Regions from separate parts of the Homo sapiens genome. Here regions 2, 3, 4 and 5 are each reported to be linked to region 1. Evidence: microRNA targets listed by miRTarBase, many of them from high-throughput screens and not tested one by one. Region 1 holds a microRNA gene; each other region holds the end of a gene's coding sequence.

Region 1 (3,150 bases):
ACACATTTCCTGCCTGCCTTAGCAGGTCTCTTAAGCTGTAAAAATAGCTACCCATGGCAGTGAGATGAGGATCCCTGGACCTTGCCTTTCTGACCTCTTTCCCCCAGGAAGTCCATGACTGACCTTCAGGCAGCAGCATCTCTGCAGGCTCCACTGAGCGCTTTCAGATCTCCGCAGACTCCACTGAGCGCTTTTAGATCTCCGCAGACTCCACTGAGCGCTTTCAGATCTCTGCAGACTCCACTGAGCGCTTTCAGACTGGGGCCATGCCTCAGGGGATGGGCTCCCCCTGTGTTGTTTTGCTGGTGGCCACGAATCCGAAAGGCCCATGCTGCAGCGTGCCCTGCTTTGAGTTTGGTTGATATGCTTAATAAGAACATTAGTTTTCTGGGAGAATTTGGTAGCACCCGTTCTTCCCTTCACTGTGTGGGGGAAATAGTGTTGATTGAAAGGAAGAGGACTCCGAGATTGGATTGGAGCAAGAAAGTGTGGGTATCGTGTGTTGTGACTGTGTCTTCTCCGGGGTGCTGCTTCACTGGAGGTCTCCCTTCAGGGTCTGGCCCTCATGCCTGGCCCCAGGTGCTCGTGTGCACGTGAGCGGCTCTTCCTGCTGACTGACTACAGCTAATTGACAAAAGGCAGTTTCAAAAAAAAAAAAAATCTCAACTTAGTAAGGTGTCAGCACAGAGGGGAGTAGCTAGAAAAAGCTTGCTAACAACATTTAGAGGCCACCCTAAGACAGCTATACTCTCCCAAAGTGCCAAAGAATGTAACCTTGGGAGGCTCCACTCTTTCATGTAGAATTGCAAACTAAACTAGTAGGAGCAAGTGAATGTGAGGAAACAGATTGTAAGGGCATACCTGTTTCAGCACTCATCCGGCTGCCTTCCAGGATAGAAAGGAAACTCCAGGTTGATTGGAAATGGAAAAAACGACCAGCGTCACAGGCCTGTCCCGTAGCACGGGCAGTAGCTGAAGAGGCCCTGCAGACCCTGTGTAATGGGTCTAGGTCTCCTCTACCTCTTTTTTGTTTGTATGTTTGAGACGGAGTCTCGCTGTGTCTCCCAGGCTGGAGTGCAGTGGCACGATCTTGGCTCACTGCAACCTCCAACTCCCAGGTTCAAGCAGTTCTGCCTCAGCCTCCCGAGTAGCTGGATTACAGGTGCCCACCACCACGCCCAGCCAATTTTTTGTATTTTAATAGAGACGGGGTTTCACCATCTTGGCCAGGCTGTTCTCGAACTCCTGACCTCATGATCCACCTGCCTTGGCTTCCCAAAGTGCTGGGATTACAGGCGTGAGCCACCGCGCCTGGCCTCGTCTACCTCTTTTGATGCATCGTACACAAGCCATTGGTCAGGGGGCGGGTCCACAAGCTGGTATTTATCTTAATATGCTGTTACTAATACATTGTTTACTTGGGAAGAAAGCACCATAGCATTTATTTGCAGTCCAAAGGTGGAAGTTGTGAGTCCAGCAACACAATCATGTGACAGCTTTAATGCTCATTTATGAATTTCATTTGGGCCAAAAGCATAGTTCTGTGACTCAAGCACTTAATGATTAATAGAACTCTAGAGGAACTTACCAAAGGGGCAAAGAATGAAGGTTTGATGGTTGTTACATCTCCAGATTCTAAAATTGATCCATAGTTGTGGTTCTGTTCGTTCCTTTCAGTGCTAGAACTCTTTCCATTAGAGATGACTTTCGTCTTCTGCTTTGGAGGGCTTGGAGATGTGAAATGTTCAGGAGGGTCTTTTCCCTGCTGTTGGAGCTTCTTTTTCTTCCCTGGTTGCTTTTTCATAGTATTCTGGCTACAAATAAGTAAGACATTTCTATTTTGTTTTGTTACAGAGTGGCTTAGAGGAAAGGTTAGATATAATCTCTTTGGGCTCTGTTGCTGTTTCAGGATGCTCGATGCTTTAGATTTATTAATATGTAGTGTGCTGAACTTAGAAGTCCTTCCTCTTGTCTGCCTTGATCCAGAGTCTAAGCGTAATAAAGGCAGAAACTCTGGCTATGCTGACGTCAGGTCCTGTCATCGTGGTGTGTGAGGGCAGCACCCAGCTCTGCCTCTCCCACCACGGTGCTGGCACCAGGGCCTCTGCCCCGTAGGACACCGAGGCTTATGAATAGGAGCAGTGCCGGCCAAGGCGCCGGCACCATCTTGGTGATGTCCAGGGGGCCCACCCAGGCCCCCTTTTCCTCTCCTCCCCTTCTCCTGCTGGCTGCCCTTGGTGCAGGCGAATCCAGGGCCTCATTACTAAGCCAGCTGGCTCACCACGTCATCATCCAGCATTGTCAGGAGACACCATTGTGGAACAGAGCCCTACAAGGCAGGTTTTCAGATTGAACATGAAAAAGAACACCATTGTGGAGTGTCAGAGTAGTGTGTGCAATTAGTGAAATGCTTTTATAGGGTAAAATACAAGGAACCAGGTCCCCCCGGGATCCCAAAAGGGCAAGTTGACACTTGCCACCTCCACCTGGCAACCCACAGAAGCTCAGCATTAGGCCGTTTCTCACAGTATGATTGCAGGTACAGGGGTCTGGCTTACTGGCCCATTGATGCCATCAACCTTAGGTTACAGATCAAGAGGCCAGATACCGATGAGTCTGAACTTTAGAACATGGCCTGTGAATAGTGTGACTTCAGGTTTTTAGAAAGCTGAGACCATGCTTGTGAGGGTCATGGCTGTCCCTTTGACAGAGCATTATTCCTTTTCTAGAGTTTAAAAGGTGGGTATAGATTGAAAAAAGGGATTGGGGTAATTGTCTTTAGTTACTTTAGACATATCTTTTTACACCATCTGCTTTTTATGATAGGAGAAAGAATAGAGTTCTCTGGTTTTATTTGTGCATTTTTTCTTTGTCTTATTTGGTTTATGAAACATTTAATCGATGTTTCAGAACATTCTTTCAAAGTCAGGACGGTCTGTCTCTCAGTACATCCTTCTTAGGGTTTTCTTTCTGTTATTCAATTCAGTGCCTCTGGAACTTTCCTGTGGAAAGCCTGCAACAGCATCTCCCCTGTTATACTGTGATAAAGGGATTTTTTTTTTAAAAAGCTGATCTAAAATCACAAAGAACTTTCTTTTTTAGATAAATAATTTCCTGTGTTGTTCCTGAAGATTGTGTTTTGTTTACTGT
Region 2 (3,000 bases), not on the chromosome of region 1:
GGCTGGGCGCAGGCCTGTGTGTCCTCAGGGCTGTGTCCCCGAAGCCACCTCAGCGTGGGAAAGCACTGGAAGGCCCTGCATGGCTCCGTCCCTCCCTCTGCCTCCCCCAGCAGCGTGAGATGGCAGCCCTGGCCAGCCCCAGCCCTCCAGGGCCTGCAACTCGGGCACCTTGACCCCCCAAGAGACATCACCACCCCCTCCCCCAACCCACCCAACAGCTGCCCACTGTGCCAGCAACCCCCCAGCCAGGCCCGCTCAGGGTTTGCTCCCTGCCCTCCCAGGGCTCTGCTCCTGCCCTTCTGAGTGGCACTGTGGTGCCCCTGCCGCCCCAGGCCCACCCGATCCGGCCCTCCAGCCTCCCACTGAACCGGCCAGAAATACAGCTGCTGTGCCCCAGAGGCCGCAGGCCCAGCCTCCCGCTTGGCCTCCCTCCCCTTCGGCACCCCGTCCTCTGGAGCAGCCTTGAGGGGGTCTGCAGTGGAGAGACACACTCTGGATTGGGCCCTGTTGTGGGTTGAATTGTCACCCAGAAAGGGAAGCGCAGAAGTCCTGACCTCCAGGGCCTCAGAATGGGACCTTATTTGGGAATTGGGTTTTTGCCAAGGATGGAGCTGAGGTTATACTGGAGGTGGAGGCTCCTGGTCCAGTCTGACCTCTGTCCTTGTAAGAGGGGAGGTTAGGCAGGCTGCAGTGGCCCACACCTATAGTCCCGACACTTTGGGAGGCTGAGGCAGGTGGATCACTTGAGGTCAGAAGTTCGAGACCAGCCTGGCCAACATGGTGAAACCCCGTCTCTACTAAAAATACAAAAATTAGCTGGGTGTGGTGGTAGTCGCGTGTAATCCTAGCTACTCAGGGGGCTGAGGGAGGAGATTCGCTTGAACCTGGGAGGCAGAGGCTTCAGTGAGCTGAAATTGTGCCACTGCACTCCAGCCTGGACAACAGAGCAAGACTCTGTCTCAAAAACAAAGAAACAAACAAAGAAAACGGTCAGGCGCGGTGGCTCATGCCTGTAATCCGAGCACTTTGAGAGGCTGAGGTGAGTGGATCACCTGAGGTTAGGAGTTCGAAACCAGCCTGGCCAATGTGGTGAAACCCCATCTCTACTAAAAATACAAAAATTAGCCAGGCCTGGTGGCGCATGCCTGTGATCCCAGTTACTTGGGAGGCTGAGGCAGGAGAATCACTTGAAGCTGGGAAGCAGAGGTTGCAGTGAGCTGAGATCACACCATTGCACTCCAGCCTGGGCGACAAGAATAAAACTCCATCTCAATTAAAAAATAAATAAATAAAAGAGGGGGAGTTGGACACAGACGGACGCACACAGAGGGAAGAGATGAGAGGCTACAGGGGCAGGCACTGGAAGACTGGGGTGATGTGATACAGCCACCAGCCAGGACAGCCTGGGGACACCAGAAGCTGGCGAGGCAGGAAGCTCCCCTGAGGTATCCCCAGGTTTCAGAGAGAGCGTGGCCCTCCCTCCAGCCTCCAGAACTGTGGGACGATAGATTTCCTTTGTTATAAGTCTCCACCTGGGTTTGGGTGTGGTGTGGCGGTGCTGGGGGAGGAGTTTAGGAAGAAAGGGAATCAGACCTTCTCTGGGGTCTCCAGGGTGAAGGCTGAGGGGCCTAAGACCACCCGGAGGTGCCCCGTGCCCACCCTCCCGACGGAGCTGCGAGGCTGGCTCTCCAGCCTCTCCTTCCGCCCCCACCCACATTCACTTTGTTTTCTCTCCTCCGTGCTTTCATGACCAAAAAAAATATTTTTTTACTTTTTCCATGTTTTTTTTTTAAAGTAATTACAGAGCAGGTAGTCGTTGACGCAAACCTCCCTTCAGTATCAAAAGTGTCTGTGGGGCAGGTGGGGCTGGGGCGGGTGGAGGCTCCCCCCCGCGCCGACGACAGGGACCGCCGGCCGGGAGCAGAGCCGGGCGCTGGGACGGGAGCTCTGGCGACGTGTCCATCTCTTCAGTTTTGAGGGCGGAGGAGTGGGAGGGAGGGACGGGCGTCAAACTGCAAAAACTGAACCGTAAAAGGAAGGTGTTTGGGGCCGAGGGGAAAGGACACCCCTGGAGAAAGCTCCTCTCTCCCCTGGAAGGCGGCGGGCCCGGAACGCTTGGTGGGAGAGCGAGGAGGAAACGCGGAGAACTCAGGCCACTTCTCCTGGGTCCCACGTCCCCTCCCGTCACCGGGGATTGGCGGGGGTGAGGCGAGGATCCCAGAGACTCCGCTCCTGGAGCCCCACCCTGTCCTTACTGGGGGTCCGAGCCCCAGATGGGGCTGGAAGCCACCTCTCCCCAATTCCCTGCGTGGTCCCAGAAGGTGGGCTGGGCTGTGGGAGGGAGGGGTCCCGGTCAGGCTGCGCCCGGGCTGGGACCTGGGTGGGGGGCTCCACGCCCCTCGCCCGCCCGGCCCCGCCGCCTCAGATCTGCGTCTCTTGCACGTTCTCCTTGGAGCCGCTCTTGAAGAGCAGAGGTTCGTGGATGGAGTTGAGGCCAGGCGGGCCTTTGCCCCCGCAGCCCCCGCCGCTGGGGTTGCTGCTGTAGTGCGCCTTGAAGGCGGCAGCCACGTAGTGGTGGTGGTTGAGGTGGTCTCGCTCCAGGGCGGGCAGGGCCAGGTGGCTGTCCCCGCCCACACCACCCCCACTGGCCACGGCGGCCGCGGCGGCCACGGACACGGCCGAGGCGGCGGGCAGCTCGTCCTCCACGTTGATGATCTCCACGGTGCGCGTGGGCCCGTGGTGCTTGTGGAGCTGGTGCTGCTTGCGCAGCTTGTAGAAGGCCACGAGCATCACCGCGGCCATGAACGTGATGGCCACGAAGCAGCCGATGATGATTTTGGTGGTCTTCATGACGTCGTCCAGGTCCTTGAGGGCGTTCTCCGTCACATCCGTGATGGGCACCGTGAACGCCTTCTCCGTGGGCCGCGAGGAGCGCGGGGCGGGTGCCGTGGTAGAAGACGAGGCAGGGCCGGCCGCGTCCCCAGGCCGGCCCCCACCCCA
Region 3 (3,000 bases), not on the chromosome of region 1:
CGTGTATGGTGGTTTTTATCAGATGTATTTATATTCTAGGTGTGGAGTGAAGTTAACCAAGCTGTGCTAGATTATGAAAATCGCGAGTCAACACCCAAACTGGCAAAATTACTGAAACTACTACTTTGGGCTCAGAACGAGCTGGACCAGAAGAAAGTAAAATATCCCAAAATGACAGACCTCAGCAAGGGTGTGATTGAGGAGCCCAAGTAGCGCCTGCGCTTGCGTGGTGGATCCAACACCAGCCCTGCGTCGTGGGACTTGCCTCAGATCAGCCTGCGACTGCAAGATTCTTACTGCAGTAGAGAACTCTTTTTCTCCCTTGTACTTTTTTTTGACCTGGCATCTTTTTATAGGGAAAAATGGCCTTTGTAGGCAGTGGAAAACTTGCAAGGAAAGCTGCCGTCTCTTTGGCAGTCTGATGCAGAGCCTGCACTCTGGCACTCGCTGAAGAATCTGGAAGGTTGCGGTTTGCTCTTCCAGTGTTCGGGGGCCTCTGGCTGCTGAAGGATTCGGTCTACCACGGAGGGCTGTGCTGTTAGGCTGCATCCCACTCAAAATACAGGAAAAGCACGAATCATGATTCTGCTTTCTGTTAGCTTAGGCAGACATTGGGCCTTCACCTACAAGTTTTTCCTTACCCCTGTGGTTTTTGTGTTTTTTTTTTTTTCTTTTTCCATAGGAAAGAATATATAAATTTGTAAATCCTAATTCAAAGATGGCTCATGTGTGAGGGCATTGAGTTTGATTTGTTTTCCCTTTGGTCTGGGTTGTGTGGCTTTTGGGGGATGCGTGTGAGGGGGCTATGTGTTTTTTAATTTTTTAAATATATATTTTGGTGCTGTGTGTGGTAAGAGACTTGTTCCTAGTGGATCAATGAACCATCTCTTCTGGGCAGTTTTGTTGAAAATAAAGGTTTCTCTTTGATTTCAAGAATGACCAAAATGGCCTCTAAAAGATGTTAATCATCTCAAATGACCTTTTGTCTTTGGGGCGTTCTTCCCCCTGTGATAGCGGCAGTGGCTTTTTCTGGTACCTGCAGCTGGAAAGGCCACTTGGCCCTGTGCTGAGTGAGCGGCCTTCATTAGAGCGAGGCAGCCCTTGGCCGGTGGGGACGCAGAGCCCCAGCAGGTGGTGCACGACTGTTGGCGGAAGGAACGCGTGTTCATCCTCAGTGATCTGCCCTCCAGCATCTCGGCAGCATCTCATCCTCCATCGTCAGCTGGCTCTGCCGATGTCCTGCTTCTGTTCACTCACAGAACTGTCCCCTGCTCCGTGGTGGGCAGGAGGGAAGTGGTGCAGGGCTGCGTGCATTGCCTGCGAGTCGGGACAGTTGATGGGCACATGGCCTTGTAGCTCTGGGCACAGATGTGTTTGGATTCATTGCAGCGGACCACCGGGCACTGTTGACCCCACTGAGCAGTGCTAAGTGTTGGTTTAGTGGATGTTCGTGGAATTGCTGACCCATCCAAGGGCGTCCTTTGGAGCCAGTGGAGCCTGCCGGCGCATCTGAGGGGCAGAATGCTGCTAGCACTTGAATCTGGGATCTCGCCTTATTCTCAAGTAGCAAGGCATCTCGACAAGCATGGTCTAGGTCTGGTGGCCAGCTTGCCAGTACCTGAGCCGGTCGGGTCATCTGCCTCTGAGGGACCGTCCTCACCGAGCTCCTGCATCCCTTGAGTGTTGATCAGGAGGCGTCCACAGCATTGTTCTCGCCTCTGAATGATGCTTCTTTCTGTGTTGGAGCCTGGCGAAGTTGTGTTTTCAAGCCCTCTACTTCTCTTTCCAGTGGGTAGGAGCTTTTGGCAGTGTTTACTTTACCTAGATGGCTTATATAATCCAGTAAGAGATGCAAAGATAAAATTGCTGCGGTTGTTACAGAAGCATGGCGGCCTCCAGACTGACCCATTGGTTGCCCTTTAGATTTTGTAAGGATGCGGTGCTGGGGAGGTGGTGCTTCCCTACCCCCTAGAAATGCTGCCTTCCAACTACCACTCTCCCAGATGTGACCCTTGCGATTATTTCCTCTGAGGTTTGAGGATGAAGATAAGTTGGAGGGAAAGAGAGTAACTAATAGGGGATGAAATATAGCAGAAGCTAGAAGAAAGCGGTGAGGTGAGAGAGATGCATCTGCACGTTTTCTTCAACAGCACCAGGTGATTCAGCATATTCCTAATTACCTTTCACTATTCGTGTATATAAGATCGTTTACTTGCATAATATATCATCAATTTGACATATTCTTAAAACTAGAGGGTGTGAGAAGCACAGCAATAGGAAGTCTCTCCACAAACTAGGGGAACACAAATGGGGTCATTCACGTGCCTGGACTGTCACTATGTGGCTGTCACGTGAAGTGCTGGTGTTGATTTCCATTTCAGCCAGTGGGTAGCTGATAAGCCAGTGCCAGCATCCAGCATGAGCAGATGTCGGGGAGACTGGGAAGTCTCCAGCGTTACTGCTCTCCTTCCCTTCATGATAAGCCAGTGCCAGCATCCAGCGTGAGCAGACGTCGGGGAGACTGGGAAGTCTCCGATGTTACTGCCTGCCTTCCTTTCGTGTGAGGGGCTGCACTTGCTTTTCTTGTGATCTGTTAGTGGACGAGGTCTTCCAAGGAAGTGCTTTGCACACTTTCTTTGCTCCTTTTTACAGTCTTTGTCTTTGCAGCAAGCAAATGAAATTAAGCCACTTTGGGATAATGAACATTCAGTATAATTCTACTTTGTCTCATTTTGGATCTCACTGTTGTCTTTATAAAAATGGCACATTTTACAAAGTAGTTTATTCTTATTATACTTTCTGCTGGAGAGTGCCTTGAAATAAAATGTGAGAGTATTCTGGTACTCTGTGTTCCAGATGCATGAAATTGGGTGAGGAATAACCCCTAGTCTGGAATCTTTGTGAAGCATAGGGTTATTGCAAGGCAAATGGGAACTAACACATCTTGCCATTTGAATCAGGGTCTCCAGTTTCTAGAAAAGGCAGACACTGGTTGGGACC
Region 4 (3,000 bases), not on the chromosome of region 1:
TATATCACAACACAATGTTCAATTAGATGACTTAGAGTCAAAGGCTCAGAAAACCACTGTGAAAACAAGCCAGGGGATGAAGTTGCTTAAATAACAAAACGAAGGTGGGCCATCTTTAGCATGGGAAGAGGCAGGTAAGGAATACTGAGCCCATAAAATAGAAGGCAGACTGGTACAGCAGAAAATCACAGATAGGAGCCAGAAATCTAATCTTCAGCCCTATCTACATCACCTGCCTCCCTATCATCTTGGGAAAATCACTATTTCCTTAGGTATAAAAATATTTATCTCAGCACTTTCACTGGTCTGTAAACTGTCCCCCGCCCTTTCCTCTTTTAACTGTCATAAAAAAGCAATACATGGCTGGGTGAGGTGGCTTACAGAATCCCAGCACTTTGGGAGGCCAAGGCAGACGTTATCAGTTGAGCCTGGGAGTTTGAGACCAGCCTGGTCAACATGGCGAAAGCCCATCTCTACTAAAAATAAAAAATACAAAAACTAGCTGAGCTTTGTGGCATAAGCCTGTAATCCCAGCTACTTCGGAGGCTGAGGCACGAGAACTGCTTGAACCCGGGAGGTAGAGGCTGCAGTGAACTGAGATCATGCCACTGCACTTCAGCCTGGGTGACAGACACTCTCTCAGAAAACAAACAAAAAGCAGTACTTCACTGATTATAAAAACCGAAGTTTTCCATGCCTAATCATGTAACATAGCAGCTTTGTAAGACTCCAAATTAATAATCCAAACACCCAGCATATACTCCATTCTACTACCAAGAATTATACAGGAAACTGAAGCAGAGAGGTTAAGTCACTTAACCCAAGTCACCCAACTATCTAGGCAGTTTGGCTAAGTTGGTGTTCTTAACCGCAGCATTAGACCATCTAATGCTCATTCAATTCCCTATGCTTACATGAAATCCTGGTCACTCACCTGGAGATCCTATGGAGAATTCTCCAGGAGATTCACCTGGAGAGCTGTGTCATTCCTATGAAGCCTGAAAATCCTGACTTGTCACTCCTGGTCCTACCCCTACTGACCCACAGTACTTGCTTCACATTACAAAATCAGTAGGAGTACCATTTTGTGACACAAATGAGATCCACAGATGAGTTACTGCTATGGATCTAGCAAATGCCTGACCCAGTGAAGTATTCTCCTGGGGTAGCGATGTTTCTGCCAGAGGCAATGCAGGAGGTACAGGTGAAGGGAGACATCCGTGCAAAGGCCAGTAATGAGCAAAAAAACAAGTTATAGAAGATAGGGGTCAGACCAAGTGAAATAAAGGTTTTTACTCTGTCCTAAAGATGAAGTAAATCCACATTCTTATCGAATTAAATTTGCATCCTTAAAGGACTACTGACTCTGGGATAGATAAAAGACATACCAATTAGGAGGACTGAGAAGTCCATACCACAGATGGTTGAGGAGTTAGACTAAATTGGCAGTGAATTAAGTGCATAAAAGTGTCAAAGGCAGGCCTAAAATAACTCGAATTCTCCAAGGCAATTCATTTTTTTGTTACTACAACCATCTGTCAATCTGAAATCAATCCTACGAATCCTTACGTGCAAACTAAAAACTGGAGAATTGCAGACGTTTGCAACATTTAATGTGAAATTAGTTTCATACTGTTTCCTGAAGATGCTGATGGTGTAGGTCAAATGAAACATCATAGAAGAGGCAGTATATGTATATCCTTTAGTATATCTTTTACCTTCAGAAACTTTTTTTTGGAGACAGAGTGTTGTCCTGGCTAAATAAAGTGCAGTGGCACGATCCTGGCCCACTGCAACCTCCGCCTCGTAGGTTCAAGTGATTCTTGTGCCTGAGCCTCCAAAGTAGCTGGGATTACAGGCATGTGCCACCATACCAAGCTATTTTTTGTATTTTTCGTCGAGACGGGTTTTTGCTATGTTGGCCACACTGGTCTCAATCTCCTGGCCTCAAGTAATCCACCTGCCTCAGCCACCCAAAGTGCTGGGATTTCAGGCGTGAGTCACCGCACCCAGCCTAGACACATTATAAAAATATTAAATGCAAGGCTGGGCGTGGTGGCTCACACCTGTAATCCCAGCACTCTGGAAGGCCAAGGCAGGTGGATCGCTTGAGGTCAGTTCAAGAACAGCCTGGCCAATGTGGTGAAAACTCCATCTCTACTCAAAATACAAAAATTAGCCAGGTATGGTGGTGCGTGCCTGTAATCCCAGCTACTCAGGAGGCTGAGGCAGGAGAATCGCTTGAACCTAAGAAGTGGAGGTTGAAGTGGGCCAAGACTGGTATACTGCACTCCAGCCTGGGTAACAGAGACTCCGCCTCAAAAACAAACAAAAAAACTAACTGTAATTTAAAAACTAAAGTTTACAGTTGGCTCCAATGTATCTCAAAGTCAAACTGGCAGGAGCAGACTTATAAAAAGCTAACACTCATATCTAACTTGGAAGACTTATATTCTTATGCTGCATTTTACCATTTGACTACTAAAAAAGACACTGAATTACAATAATCCATCTTGGCATGCTTTTCCAATACAACAGTATTTACACAATGCAAACATCAGAATGTCTAATAAAGTTAACAAGCCAAGGCAATTTTGTTACATAAATTAACCCATTTATTATAGGCCAGTGATGTCTCAAAGAGTAGAGGAGCGTCTACTGGTCTTTCAACTCCTTCAGTCTTCTGATGGCGGACTTTACCGTGACAGCGGAAGTGGTACTGGAAAGAAAGATTCAGTTTCCAACATAATTAAGCATGTTAACATAGAAAATGGCAAATAAGTAAATCTGCCTCGTTTTTGTGTTAAAGTCGCTTCCCAAATTTTCCTAGAAAGAATTATACTGAGATAGACTGCTCTACCAATACTTTGCTGCAGTCAATCCAAAGATCTAACCAACATTAGATTACTCCTCGGAAATTAGTGGCTTCTAAACTACATGATGGCATCCTTTAAGAGCCATGCCTTCAGGATCTTGCAGAATTAGACATACAATCTCATG
Region 5 (3,000 bases), not on the chromosome of region 1:
GTAGTAAAACAACAATGAATTATTGTTTAAAGACTGATTAACCGGTTCCTTCTTCAGAAACTGAGCATAAACACTTGTCCTCGTCTCCCCATGGCTGAGACAGTGGCCCTGCCTGGCACCATGGACAGCAATCAGGGAAGGGTGAAAGGGCAAGAGTGGGACAGGCCAGGACTCCAGGTGTACACTCTACCCCGAGCCGACCACTTCAGGAGGAATTCCTGGGGAAATGCAAAATCATTTCCAAATCTTTTCCTTCCCCACCTTCCAGTCAAGCCATGAATCTCCATTTAAAGCAGCCACTCACTCCTTAGTTCTTTTAAACATTTATTTATCTACTGTACAAAATATTTACATCATCAGCTGCAACTGCCTGGCCCTTTCACCTGGCCTGACGAATCTGCAGCAGGGCTTGGTCTCTGCCAATTTTCCAGAAACATGCTGACACTCTCCTAGGTATTCACTCATGTCTGGTCTCCTTCAAAGACGCTAAAAGGCCAGAAGGGTAGCTGGCCCCCCAAGTACCTGGGTCACAAGGACATAAATAAAAGAACTGGCCAAAATAAGAAACACTAATAGAAAATTGCCCAAGAAATAACACTCTCTCATCTCTTTGACATATTGTACCTTTTCCCCACACTGGCTAGTATGAAAGCAGGATTAGAAAAAAAAAAAACAAAACAGTAAAAGAAAAGGCCCAAGAGAGCAAAGATACTTTTGAATAGAGTTCAGACAGAGAATAGAAAACCACAATAGTGCCAAAGGGTTTTGTTTAACAAAGACTGGTGCCTAAGGACCACCACAGGGATGCAGCTTCCCTGGTTGGGTTGCAATGGTGCCTAAGATGCTCTGAAAAAGTGCTATGACTAGAGCTTAAAATGACAGGTCTAGCCAAGACAATCAACTCAATCTCCAGGATCAGTCTCTGGAAGGCTGCCGGAGGGGAGAATTCAGAAAAGCGACTGCCAAAAACAGCAGAACCAGTCCACGTGCCCCCAGCTGGAAACCCCTTTCTGGGCCCAAGGGGCAGCATTATGTTTCCCAGGGTGGTGATAAACCTTCCGGTACATATCCCATGGGAAAACATTTGGGCAAGCAGCAGCACCTTGTCCTGGTCCCTGAGGAGAGCAGTGACCATGTGGCATGGAGGATCCTGGGGTATAGAGACCCTGATGCTGGATCCCGGACCCCAAGGATGAGTGAGGTCAGCACCCATGTGCCAAGAAAGGACAAATGATGACTGCGAAAGACTGAGGTCAGGCAGGAACTGTAGCAGCTCAGGAGGGCTTGTTCCTCATGATCCCTGCGAACAGGAGGGCTCAGACATGCTTCCAGGAGGCCAAGGCATTGCCAAAGTCCTGCCTTGTTTCAGGACTCTGTGTACTTGCTGGTTTTGGCAATAAAGATGGCTTGTAATATTCTCAGAGTTGACTGCCCCATTGGGAATGGTAGCTTGCAGCAAAGCCTTCTTAAAAACACAAATTTGGGAAGTCAATGAGATTTTGAATCTTGAAATTATTTTCAATCAAACAGTAATGAAAAAGGATGTTGTCATCTTCCAAGATACAGCAGCAGGTACTCTTCAATCATCATTCAACAGTGAACCTAATAAGCTTCCTCCCTCCTTAGTTCTCCTTCCTGATAACTGATGGAGCAAAGGGGAGTACAGGGGTTGGCAGGTGTTTACTGTGTAACATATCACCTCCATGTTCATCCCTAGTGTCCTGACGCCAAGGACCTGTGATAAGCACGTAAACTCCTAGTCCCTGTTCCTTTGTCTTAGTGCTGCCAGAGAACACCAAGCAGAGAGAGAATCAGGGATTGCTGGCATACTATTCTTACTGTTCTAATCTTTTGCTACAAAATTTTCTTCAGTAGAATGCTAAAGGATCCCCAGCTTTTAGCAGACTACATAATGGGGAAGTCAGTGGCCCAAGCCGGCCATACTTCAGTGCCAATAACAAACTCAGGGAAAAGCATCAGTAGTCTCCAAGCCAGCCATATGCCTAGGCATGCCCCACTCTGGAGGCTACAGCTCAGCTATCCTTCATATTCTTCAGTCTATCTGCTTTTCTCACTGGCTACAATTCAAGAAAAAGCTTACAGAGTTCTTCTTTGTGGATTAATAATCATTTCCAGAAATGCCCGAAGGGAAAGTGCTTTTTCCAGTTCTGACACCACAAAAAAATATTCTTTTTAGCAGTCCTTAGAGGCAGTCCAGTGCCATGGCCTATGCCTACCATTGTGCAGCGGGACTGCTCCTATGGGCCACCTCCTATCTGTCCCCCTCTCTCCTGGCTCCTGATGAGAAGAGGCAATCACCCCACCCATGAGAAGGACTCAAGTACCAGTCTGGTCAAGTAGTGAGGGCCAAAGAGGGTGTCTCCAAGGAGTATCAGCAGAGGGAGTTTTGGAGCACAGTGTGGATTTAAGGGTCTCCACACCAGTTTCCCAACAGGGCTGAGCCCCGTGTGCCATCTCCCTCAGCTACTGAGATCTTCAAAGGACCAAATAAATGATAGCAGCATGGTCCTCTTCTCATGACAGAATGAAGAGCTCAGCTTACATACCATGCCAAAGTGGCCTGTGGTAGATATGGGCAGGGAGCAGGTGAGGTAAAGACAAGGCTTGTAGGTGACAAAATCCTCCAGACACAGGGGAGCATGCGGCATCTTCTGGCTGATGGTTATGTGTGTTAGGATCAGTGGTTATGATGTCTGTAACTTGCGCCCAGAAGCTCCAGAGAGCATGGGAGCCAACTGGATGACAGGAGAGTGGTCAGAGCATGCCAAAGCCCTCGCAACCCTCGCTGATGGCCAGCTGCAGCATCCTGTGCACCTCTTCATAGGAGTCATATGTAGGGAGGCACAGCTGGTTAAAACTGGAAGGGCAAGGGAGAAGTGATTAACTCATACCACCAAAAACACTGGGCATGCATCAGGCGGGCAGATACCTACCATGTGTGTGCAGTAGGCAGCGTGCTATGGGTCGGAGCGGCAATAA

Evidence for each region. Region 1 holds the annotated microRNA hsa-miR-6081 (AGGAGCAGUGCCGGCCAAGGCGCC, at 2,135-2,158, shown strand). A microRNA usually pairs through its seed, bases 2 to 8, with sites in the 3' UTR of a target mRNA and lowers its output. Matches are read on the target gene's strand: a 7mer-m8 pairs with bases 2 to 8, a 7mer-A1 pairs with bases 2 to 7 and ends in A, and an 8mer does both.
Region 2: the mRNA of LRRC4B is a reported target of hsa-miR-6081. Seed matches in the 3' UTR shown: 7mer-m8 at 1,918-1,924.
Region 3: miRTarBase lists GID8 as a target of hsa-miR-6081. Seed matches in the 3' UTR shown: 7mer-m8 at 1,269-1,275.
Region 4: the mRNA of RPL37A is a reported target of hsa-miR-6081. Seed matches in the 3' UTR shown: 7mer-m8 at 2,402-2,408.
Region 5: miRTarBase lists AREL1 as a target of hsa-miR-6081. Seed matches in the 3' UTR shown: 7mer-m8 at 2,601-2,607, 7mer-A1 at 2,409-2,415 and 7mer-A1 at 1,647-1,653.

The regions. Positions count from the first base shown.
Region 1 is chr9:95,063,272-95,066,421 of GRCh38, forward strand. MIR6081 (microRNA 6081) reads left to right here and starts at 2,079; the gene lies at 2,079-2,175. All of the region lies in intron 14 of AOPEP (aminopeptidase O (putative)), which reads left to right. RefSeq lists an enhancer at 1-216.
Region 2 is chr19:50,515,150-50,518,149 of GRCh38, forward strand. LRRC4B (leucine rich repeat containing 4B) reads right to left here. Exons shown (of 3, transcript NM_001080457.2): 3 at 1,743-3,000. The coding sequence ends at 2,422. The region is part of intron 1 of LOC124904747 (a long non-coding RNA gene); the gene reads left to right. Among named protein-coding and RNA genes, the nearest start is that of ASPDH, 2.7 kb to the left of the region's middle.
Region 3 is chr20:62,944,700-62,947,699 of GRCh38, forward strand. It overlaps GID8 (GID complex subunit 8 homolog), which reads left to right. Exons shown (of 5, transcript NM_017896.3): 5 at 40-3,000. The coding sequence ends at 213. Among named protein-coding and RNA genes, the nearest start is that of SLC17A9, 6.5 kb to the right of the region's middle.
Region 4 is chr2:216,501,060-216,504,059 of GRCh38, reverse strand. RPL37A (ribosomal protein L37a) reads right to left here. Exons shown (of 4, transcript NM_000998.5): 4 at 1-2,719. The coding sequence ends at 2,656. Among named protein-coding and RNA genes, the nearest start is that of RPL37A, 3.7 kb to the right of the region's middle.
Region 5 is chr14:74,660,945-74,663,944 of GRCh38, forward strand. It overlaps AREL1 (apoptosis resistant E3 ubiquitin protein ligase 1), which reads right to left. Exons shown (of 20, transcript NM_001039479.2): 19 at 2,955-3,000; 20 at 312-2,878. The coding sequence ends at 2,776. Among named protein-coding and RNA genes, the nearest start is that of LTBP2, 50 kb to the left of the region's middle.